Linked DNA regions of Homo sapiens: region 1 is linked to region 2. The links come from fine-mapping of genetic effects on gene expression. Tissue or cell type: lung. Region 2 holds a variant in brackets; the other region holds the start of a gene. All regions are shown on one strand. Distances are from middle to middle. Region 1 holds the start of HEATR5A (HEAT repeat containing 5A). Region 2 overlaps HEATR5A (HEAT repeat containing 5A).

Region 1 (5,385 bases), 26 kb after region 2:
GGAGAATGGCGTGAACCCGGGAGGCGGAGCTTGCAGCAGCCCAGATCGCGCCACTGCACTCTAGCCTGGGTGACAGAACAAGACTCTGTCTCAAAAAAAGAAAAAAAAATTAGATGGGCGTGGTGGCACGCGCCTATAATCCCAGCTACTCCGGAGGCTGAGGCAGGAGAATCGCTTGAACCCAGGAGGCGCAGGTTGCAGTGAGCCTAGATGGCGCTACTGCACTCCAGCCTGGGGGACAGAGCGAGACTCCATCTCAAAAAAAAAAAAAAAGGAGAGAGTTGCCAAAATTATAAAACTTTACACTAGGTAAATGTAGCAGAAAAACCATGCCCTTCCTCTATCATTACACACTGCAGATCCAGAAGCATTTATGAGTCCTACAATTACCTGACATTATAATGAAAAACCAAGATTAATAAGTAAAAGTGAGGCTGGGCGCAGTGGCTCATGACTGTAATATCCCAGCACTTTGGGAGGCCGAGGCGGGCGGATCACCTGAGATCAGGAGTTGGAGACCAGCTTGGCCAACATGGTGAAATCCCGTCTCTACTAAAAATACAAAAATTAGCCTGGCGTGGTGGTGCATGCCTGTACTCCCAGCTACTCGGGAGGCTAAGGCAGGAGAATCACTTGCACCGGGGAGGTAGAGCTTGCAAGTGAGCCAAGATCGCGCCACTGCACTCCAGCCTGGGCTACAGAGCCAGACCCTGTCTCGATAAAAACAAAAACAAACAAACAAACAGAAGAATTAAAACTGAATTTAATCTATTTCCTCCTACAAAAGATTTAGTGATTAAGCACTTAAGAGCTCTAGTTCAGGGGTCCACTAATTTTTTTCTGTAAAGGACCAGACAATACTCTAGGCTTTGGGAGCCATACGGTCTCTATCACAACTACTCAAAAACAAAACATGCACAGCCATAACGAAGGAGCATTGTTGTGTTCAATAAAACTTTTATAAAACTGCCAGCAGAGCAGATTTGACCCACAGGCTGTAGATTGCTGAGCACTATTTTAATTCAAAAATTTAACACTAGAACTAGACAAGGGATCTAATTAAGTGACACAGGCAAGTCTTTACTAAGTTTTTTGGCCCCAGTTAATTGATTTCTCAAATGAGATTTAATAACAGTTTCTCAATGTCTCCTGAAAAAGCAGAAGTGTTATTTATATGAGGACTGTGGTCTCATTAAAGGATTGTTCAAACTCTTCAATTATACTATGGGATAATTAATGAACCACACAAGACTCAATAGAGCTTTTTAAAAAAATGCAGATGTCATTAAACGCTTAATTCAGAATAATTTTAGAATTTAAAAAATTCAGAATTTAACCCTTATGTTATTCATAGTTAAGAAAGACTATTATAAACTACCTCAACCTTTTTGAAACAAAGCAAGAAGAAAGGTAAGTGTATTGGTTAAAGACAAGTAAAAAAATAATTTTTTTCTGTAGATAATATATTCATTAGTTTAATGTAGTTAATTTTAATTAATAATTTAAGAATTAAAAAGGTACTTTGGAGTCATGTATTTTCTGTGACTAAAGTCAGATACAATAATGAATAATACTAAAAAAGTGACCTAATCTAACATCCATAAATAGTGGAGGGAACTTAAGCTAGAATTCAGGTCTCCTGACTTTCAGGTGAGGAGTCTTTTCTTATTCTCCTATTCTATAGTCATCTAGGTAAAACAACTGCATTCCAAGGCACAACAAATCCATACTACAGTATTCTCCAACTGTCACTATTCTTATATTATAAATCCTGCCTGCTTATCAGTGAAGAAAAAAAAAAAGTCAATGGCATTAAAATGTAACACAAATCTCGGCTTCGATACTTTATCTAAAATTACTTTCTCAAAGACATACTTTCTAAAATGTTTGGAAAATTAAACAAAATTCTCCTCTCCCCATCCAACTAATGCTCAATTCTAACCACACTTCTGCTTTCCCTACAGCTTAAGTAATTTCACTGGGAGTATTTTCTCTGGAAGTTCTTAAGTGTACTTGTGGGCCCCTTTTTTTCCTCCTTAAACTTCTAATATCTTTCAGGCTGTAAATTCCTTAAGGGCGCCTAGCCCCAAAAAAGTGCTGCATATTTGTTCAATAAATGAATGCACATAAAAACAATGGATAACTATGACCTTTAATGTAGGAGCTCAAGCCATTTTATTATTATCTGACTTGACAGTCAAGAAAATTATCCCAACTTGCCAGAGGTATCCATTACTGTGATAAATAAACACTATAAAACGCTTTATAAAGTTTCTAAAGACTTTATAATCACTTGAAATAACGCCGCGTTGGCCGAGAGTAGGGTGAAAGAAAATGTTTCCTCACACTAAGCAAATGCCACCAAAGGAAAAGCTTTCTTTCCTGGAGAGAACTGCAACAGTTAGAAAGCAAATATCCACACTCTCCACTGCTCCCTTCTGGGAACTCTCTTTGAGGGTTCCTGCAGAAAACGAACGGGCCTCTGAGGAAGCTCGCCCGAAGGCCGGGCCGGGGCCCGGCTCCTGGCTGACCACTGGCGCAGCGGACGCCGCAGGGCGGGTCCCGGGAGCGGCGAGTTGGCGAGGCGGGCTCCGACTTGCTGACCTTCCCCACACGCCCGGCAACCCCGGCTCCCGCTGGCGGGCAGAGTCCACGCCTACCTGTTGTGCACAGGTGAAGCCAGACTTTCCCGTAGTCCAGGAGGAAGAACGGACCACGCTGTTTATCAGCCGACCCTGTGCCCCAGTCAGCCCCTTCTCGGCGGACTCCAGCCCTTAGGGTCAAGACACCTAGCCCCTCGACCGGTTCTCCCACCGGCTTCTTTCGCGATCACATTGCTGCCGCGACCACCCTCGGGATCCCCGAGCGCTCAACTCATACAGCGGCCCTGGTGCGTTCTCCTTCCCAGCCAACAGGCAGCCCAGACACAGCCCCCTCGCGCCCGGAGGTGTCCCCGCTCCCTGGATCCCCGACTGCCTGCCTTTGGGGGTCCTCCTCAGCTGAGCGTGCGTCCCGGTCCAGCAACGTTACCGGCTGCTCTGCTAACCCTAGCAGAGTCTGGAATTGCCGGCGGCGGCGACAGCGAGGCATTGAGGTGGGCGGGGCGCGCGTGGGGCGTGGCCGGAAAGCTCTCAGCGGCGAGCACCGCGGGAGCTAGCGATTGGGAGCGCGCCCTGCGCCGGGCCGCTGGTCCAAGGCCCCGCCAGCTGGCCGCCGAGCCATCGAGCGCCCACTCTGGCAGGCGTGACTGCTTCACCGTCGAAAGAGCGATGGAGACTGCGGCCCAAGTTAGGATTAGGACAGCGGTTTTTCAGTCCGGAGATTCCGGCCACAACTATTTTTGTCTGTTTTTATCGTAAGCCAGAGTCTTTGGGTGCAGCTCTGGGACACCTAAAGGGCCTGGAGAAATTCAGGCGGGGCCAGTGCTGTGGGGGTAGATGTTAGACGTGGAAGGGACCCTAGAGAGCCTTGACTGTGAGGACTGAGGTAAAGTGACTTGCTCAAGGTCACATACTAAGTCAATGGCAGAACTGAGACTAATAGCCTCTTACCTTGAGTCATGTGCGTTTTCCCACTACACTCAGCGTTTTAAATGTCATTTTTCAAGTTTCATTTTGAATCTATCTCCAGCTTACAAAAAGGTTGCAAGTATAGTACAAAGAACTTTTTTTCCCTGAATTGAGATTTAAATTGCTGACACCATGCCACATTGTCCCTAAGCACCTTCTACATAATCACAATATAACCATCAAAATCAAAACATTTACATAACTCGGCGTTTTACCAATTGTCCCAATAATATTGTTTATGGTAAAAGATTCCGTTCAGAATCAGGCATTGTATTTACTTATCATGTATCTTTCCTACTCTTCAAACTGGAACTCTCAGTCTTGCCTTGCCTTTCATATTCTTGACGCTGTTAAAGATTCCTGGCCAGTTATTTTTGTAGAATGGCCTTCATTTTGGGTCTGTCTGATATTTACTCATGATTACATTTAGCTAGGTATGACAGGACTCTAGAAGTGTTGCTGCTTTCTTCTCATGGCACCCTATCAGGTGGCACGATTTTAACTTCTCTCATTACAGATGTTTACTTTAATAAGGTGATGTCTGTTAGGCTTGTCCAGTGTGGTTACTTTTTTCCCCCCTTTGTAAATTAATAAGTATTTTGTGAGGGAGACTCTGAAACTCTCCTTTCAAGATATTTGTAAATATCTTGTTTCTCATCAAATCTTCAGTTAATGTATTTATATTAATTAGTATGGATCCAGAGGTTTCTATTTTGTTAAATGACTTATAATCCGTTTCTTTCTCTCTTTTCTCTCTCTCTTTTTTTTTTTTTTTTTCTTGAGACAGGGCCTCCTTTGTTGCCCAGGCCGGAGTGCAGTGGCTATTCACAGGTCGATAATGCAATCATGGTGCACACTACAGCCTTGAACTTCTGGGCTCATGTGATCCTTCTGCCTCAGCCTCCCAGGTAAGTAGCTGAGACTGCAGGCATGCACACCACCACACCAGCCAATATTCTGTCTCTATCATTATTTATTTTGATGCTCAATTATCCCAAGTTTGGTGGGTAGGGGCCCCATTCATTCTATCTTCTGTGATATGTGTGTGTGTGTGTGTGTGTGTGTGTGTGTGTGTGTTCAATTTTTTTTTAAGACAAGAAGACAAGGTCTCATATTCATTCTAGCTTCTGTGTTGTGTGTGTGTGTGTGTGTGTGTAATTTTTTTTTTTTTGAGACAAGAAGACAAGGTCTCACTCTGTCACCCAGGCTGGAGTGCAGTAGTCTGATCACAGCTCACTGCAGGCTCAACCTCCTAGGCTCAGGTGATTCTCCCACCTCAGCCACTCAAGTAGCAGGGACAATGGGTGTGCCACTGTGCCTGGCTAATTTTGTTTGTTTGTTTTTGTTTTTGTAGAGACAGGGTTTCACCATTTTGCCCAGGCTGGTCTCGAACTCCTGGGCCCAAGCGATCCACCCGCCTCAGCCTCCCAAAGTGCTGGGATTACAGGTGTGACCCACTGTACCCAGCCTTAAATTCTCTCTCTCTTTTTTTTTTTTTTTTTTGAGACGGAGTCTCGCTCTGTCACCCAGGCTGGAGTGCAGTGGTGTGATCTTGGCTCACTGCAGCCTCCGCCTCCCGGGTTCAAGCAATTCACTGGCCTCAGCTCCTGAGTAGCTGGGATTACAGGCGTGTGCCACCATACCTGGCAAATTTTTGTATTTTTAGTAGAGACGGGGTTTCACTGTGTTGCTCAGGCTGGTCTCAAACTCCTGACCTCATGATCAGCCCGCCTCGGCCTCCCAAAGTGCTGAGATTACAGGCATGAGCCACCGCGCCTGGCCCCAGCCTTAGATTCTGTAAACATTTTATTGTAAA
Region 2 (5,385 bases):
AGATGAGGTTTCCCCATCTTGGCCAGGCTGGTCTTGAACTCCTGACTTCAAGCAATCCATCCGCCTTGGCCTCCCAAAGTGCTGGGATTACAAGCATGAGCCACTGCACCTGGCCCCTAAATGTTATTATAAAAATATTCAAAGGAATCAAAAATTTTAAAAATTAAAAAGTTTATAAAGTAAAAAACTTTTAGTAAACAAAGGCTAATTTATTATTAAAGAAAAATACACATTTTTTAAATTTAGCATAGCCTAAGTGTACAGTGTTTGTAACATCTACAGTAGTATACAGTAATATCCTAGGCTTTCACATTCACTCGCCACTCGCTGATTCACCCAGAACAACTTCCAGTCCTGTAAGTTCCAGTCATGGTCAGTGCCGTATAGGTGTGTACCATTTCTTATCTTTTATATCATATTTATACTGTTCCTTTTCTATATTTAGACATGTTTAGATACACAAATACCATTGTATTACAGTTTTCTCAGTATTCAGTATAGTAACATGCTGTAGAGGTGTGTAGTCTAAGAGCAATAGTCTATACCATATAGCCTAGTGTGCAGTAGGCTATACCATCTAGATTTGTGTAAGTTCACTCTATGATGTTCCCACAATGACAAAATCACTTCATGATGCATTTCTCAGAATGTGTCCCTATTATTAAGCTATGCATGACTGCATCTACCTGGACTCATCACATTTTCCTCATTACTTTCTCACTTCTGAAGAATACACTTATGGCCAGTTGTTTTATAGAATGGCCCTTGATATGAGTTTGTCTGGTATTTCCTCCAAATTTTTGACAGAGAACTATGTAAGTGATGTTACATCCTGTTCAATGCATAACATCAAAAAGCACTGCCAGGTGTGGTGTCAGTCTGTCCCTACACAGATGATACTAGCTTTGAACATGTGCACAATGTAAGTCTGCCACATTTTTCCACTGTAAAATTATCATTTATAATTATGATGCAATGTATCTGGCAATACTTTAAGATGGCCTGAGATTGGATAAGACCACAAGACATGCTCTCTTGGCTTTCTTTCCTGCCTTCTCACTGGAAATTTCTGTTTTGTCTTCTTCAATGGTTTCTTGTGTTCTCCAAGAGAAAACTCATGACCTAGTACCTGGTCTGCTCTTCTCTATGTATACTCACTGTCTTGTGATCTTATCCAATCTCATAGCTTAAATTCCATCTCTATATTAGAGATTCCTGAATAATCACTATTAATTTATTCCTAAAATAAATATATTTATTCCTAAAATTTATGAATTTGATGTCCAGTCTTCTCTCCTGGGCACCAGACTCTCATATCCAGCTGTCTATCTGATATCTCTATTTCGATGTCTAGTTAATGTTCCAAATTGTTTTAAACTCAGTGCTTGATCCTCCTCCCTGACACATACACAGCCTGCTCTACTTGCACACTTGCTCAAATCAGTTGATGACAACTCTGTACTTCCAGGTTTTCAGCCCAAAATTCATAAAGTCATCCTGGACTTCTCTTTCACACTCAACATCTATTCTATTTGACTATTCAAAAGATTCAAAAGCAGAACTCCTTAGAGAAATGGCTAATTCTGGGGTTGGGGCGGAGAAAGTAGTAAGCTGTGATTGCACTACTGCTCCACCCTGGGTGGCAGAGTGAGACCCTGTTTCCAAAAACAACAACAATGAAATCACTAAGACAAAGCAAAACTGTCCAAATACAATAAACTACAAGTATCTAGAATTATCTACATTATATGCTCCATTGTACCAATCTAAAAAATGGCAAGCCAAATATATGTAGTCAGATGCATGCTGCTTTAAAAAAAAGAAAATTCAGTATTTAGATCATATCGTTTATTGGATAACACTTCACAATTACTTTAAAAAAAATATATAAAAATAAGGCCATGGCTGGGGGGTGGTGGCTCACGCCTGTAATCCCAGCACTTTGGGAGGCCAAGGAAGGCAGATCACCTGAGCTCAGGAGTTCGAGACCAGCAGAGCTAACATGGTGAAATCCCATCTCCACAAAAAATATAAAAATTTAGCCGGGGATGGCAGTGAAAGCCTGTGGTCCCGCCTACTCAGGAGGCTGAGGTGGGAGGATCACTTGAGACCAGGAGGCAGAGGTTTCAGTGAGCTGAGATGGCACCACTGCTCTCCAGACTGGGTGACAGCAGACCCTGTCACACACACAAAAAAGCTGTAATGTAAAAGGAAGACAATGATTGCATAAAGTACACCACACTTCAAGAGTTCTTGTAAATTTTCCTCAAATTTTTACTGAATTGTTTCAAATGAAATCTCAGGACCTACAGCAATGTTTATGAATTGAAATTGATTTTTTTTTTTTGAGATGAAGTTTCGCTTTGTTGTCCAGGCTGAGATTGTGCAGTGGCGCAATCTCAGCTCACTACAACCTCTGCCTCCTGGGTTCAAGTGATTCTTGTAATCCCAAGTAGGTGGGATTGCAGGCGTGTGCCATCACACCAAGCTAATTTTTGTATTTTTAGTATAGACGGGTCTCACCATGTTGGCCAGACTGGTCTCAAACTTGTGACCTCAGGTGATCCACCCGCCTTGGCCTCCCAAAGTGCTGGGATTACAGGTGTGAGCCACCATGCCTGGCCTGAAATTGATTTATAACGGGTAGCAATAACACTATACATATTTGTTTATATCAACTGGGGAAAAAATTACAGAAGAGACTTTGAAAATAATTACATGTATTTACCTGTTCCTGGATGTTTAGAAATTACAGCTTTAGCTAATATTATGCCTAGTAACTTTGAAACAGAAATCCGCACATCATAATTGGAACCTTCAAAGGACTTAAAACACAGTGTGGCCACACTGTCCAGGTCCGTACTCCACATAAAGATGGCTTCATTCTGAAGTTCAAGGAGACACTATTCAATTGGACAAAGAGAAATTAATGAAAAATAAAATACAAATGTCAGGTTCAGAGCTATGTAAGTTGCAGAAACTATCAGCGTCTAACAAATAATATACAAATTCAAAGTATCTATTATGATTACAGGAATAATAAATGGATACTTATTAAAAGTCATAAAGATTATATTATAGAAGAGAATGAACCTACAAAAGGTGGGAGGAGAACCCATTTCTAACTCCACAGGTTATGAAAAATGCCTTTAGAATCAATCTATTGGCTATGAACAACTGGGAGAATAATTCCAACATTAAAAAAACTCTGGCTGGGCACGGAGGCTCACACCTGTAATCCCAGCACTTTGGGAGGCCAAGGCGGGCGGATCACGAGGTCAGGAGATAGAGACCATCCTG[G/A]CTAAGATGGTGGAACCCCGTCTCTACTAAAAATACAAAAAAAAATTAGCTGGGCATGGTGGCAGGCACCTGTAGTCCTGGCTACTCAGGAGGCTGAGGCAGGAGAATGGCGTGAACCCGGGAGGCAGAGCTTGCAGTGAGCCGAGATCGCGCCTCTACACTCCAGCCTGGGCGACAGAGTCTCAAAAAAAAGAACAAACAAAAAAACTTTACTGTATTCTCTTACCAACTATGTTAAGAAGCTATAAATTAAAAATAAAACAAAAAATCACTTTGAAACAACATAAACCTCACATGTAAATTTTAATTTACACAATTACGGAGAAAACATAGTAGAGTAGAATGAATACTTAAGATTCTGGAAACCTGAACTTCCTACCCTCTGACAATGTGTTGCTAACTCTTTGAACCTTGGGAAATTCATATAACTCTGGGCCTTAGTTTCCTCATATGTTAAAATGAGATAGTCCTAGCTGACTACCAAGATCATGTAGCTTTTACTAATGCTTTCACAAAGAAGCTGATTTACTTTTCTTTATATTAATTTTTAAAGTCTGCTTATTAGATCATTTTACCTTTGCAGCAGCACAACGAACAGCCATGGATCTATCTGTCAAGCAGGATCTAGCAGCTTTATAAACATCCCTGTGACAAGGTGCAGCGGCAGCTCCTAGTCCATTCAATATATTTTGCAGACTTAGCATAATCTCATATCGGCCTTGAGACTTCCAAAAAGAAAAAAAATTAAATAGGAAAAATAATTAAACTGCAAAGAACAGGATTAAACATTGATATCTGTCTCTCATACTGAAGAAATATCCAGACTTCTCTACATACTAACCAACCCATTATGACATCAAGAAACAAGTTACTATTTTATGAAATATTATTTGAAAAGTTACTTGTATACACTGATTTTCAACATGATACAAATTTCACAGGGTTGATGTGAAGATTAAACAAAATTACATGAAAAGTGCCTAGCAAAAAGCTTACATGCCATTAAGCATTCAATAAATAGTTGCTATAGTCTAAGCTAACCTATTAAAAATGCAGGGTCTGCCATTTACTAGATAGGACCTTGGGCAAATCTGTTCCTTCATCTAAAAAACAGAGGTAATAGTATCCCTCATAGGCTGTTGTAAGGAATAAATGAGTCATACACACAAAGTGCTTACAACAAGCCCAGACATACAACAAATGTTCAATAGATTTGGTAGCTATACTTTGTTATTATTTATTGGTTGGAACAGCTTAACTCACAGTTTAAAAGTCTTGGCTTTAGAATTGAAAAAACCTGGGTTTGAACTTCTCTGTGACCCGCAGTAACTTTGTGACTTTAAATTGTTCTTATTTCCTCATCTATAAAATGAGGATAAGATGAACCTCATGGGTAAACATTCACCACAGTGCCTGGCACACAGTTAAAAGTCAAGAAATAGTAGCTGCTTGGCTGGGTGCGGTGGCTCACACCTGCAATCTCAGCACTTTGGGAGGCCAAGGTGGGCCGATTGCTTGAGCTCAGGACTTCGAGACCAGCCTGGGCAACATGGTGAAACCTTAACTCTACAAAAAATACAATTTTAGTCAGGAGTGTTAGTGCACATCTCTAGAACCAGCTACTCAGGAGACTGAGGTGGGAGCGTGGTAGTGCACACCTTTAGTCTCAGCTACTGAGAGGCTGAGGTGGGAGGGTGGCTTGAGCCTGGCAAGCAGAGGGTGCAGTGGGAGGCAGAGGGTACAATCGGAGGCAGAGGGTGCAGTGAGTACAGACTGCACCACTGAACTCCAGCCTGGGTGACAGAGCCAGACCCTGTCTTTAAAAAAAAAGAAAAAGAAATAGTAGCTGCTTATTTTATTAATGTTTTACTAAATGCCTCAAATCATATCTATATCCCAGGAAGTTGGGCCACTGAAGGTAGAGAAGTTGGAGTTGGAGGAAGACAAAGATCAGCATCAAGAATCATTTCATAGTAATATTGTTAATTTATCTTTGTTTAAAGGCACTTAAAAGTCATAGGTGAACATAATAAAATAATGCTAACGAGCAACTTCAGAACTTTTCTTTTATTCCAGTTCCAAATG

What was found.
Region 1: HEATR5A starts here. The variant in region 2 is fine-mapped to the expression of HEATR5A in lung (TOPMed, PIP above 0.99). The same link has a PIP of 0.9 or more in esophagus mucosa.

Annotation. Positions count from the first base shown.
Region 1 is chr14:31,417,492-31,422,876 of GRCh38, forward strand. HEATR5A (HEAT repeat containing 5A) reads right to left here and starts at 3,059. Exons shown (of 36, transcript NM_015473.4): 1 at 2,981-3,059. It overlaps HEATR5A-DT (HEATR5A divergent transcript), which reads left to right and starts at 3,267. Exons shown (of 4, transcript NR_110045.1): 1 at 3,267-3,486; 2 at 4,353-4,477. RefSeq lists a silencer at 2,520-2,639 and enhancers at 2,750-2,799, 3,230-3,379.
Region 2 is chr14:31,391,324-31,396,708 of GRCh38, forward strand. It overlaps HEATR5A (HEAT repeat containing 5A), which reads right to left. Exons shown (of 36, transcript NM_015473.4): 5 at 3,876-4,025; 6 at 2,729-2,903. Among named protein-coding and RNA genes, the nearest start is that of HEATR5A, 27 kb to the right of the region's middle. The variant G/A (reference allele first, on the strand shown) is at 3,301.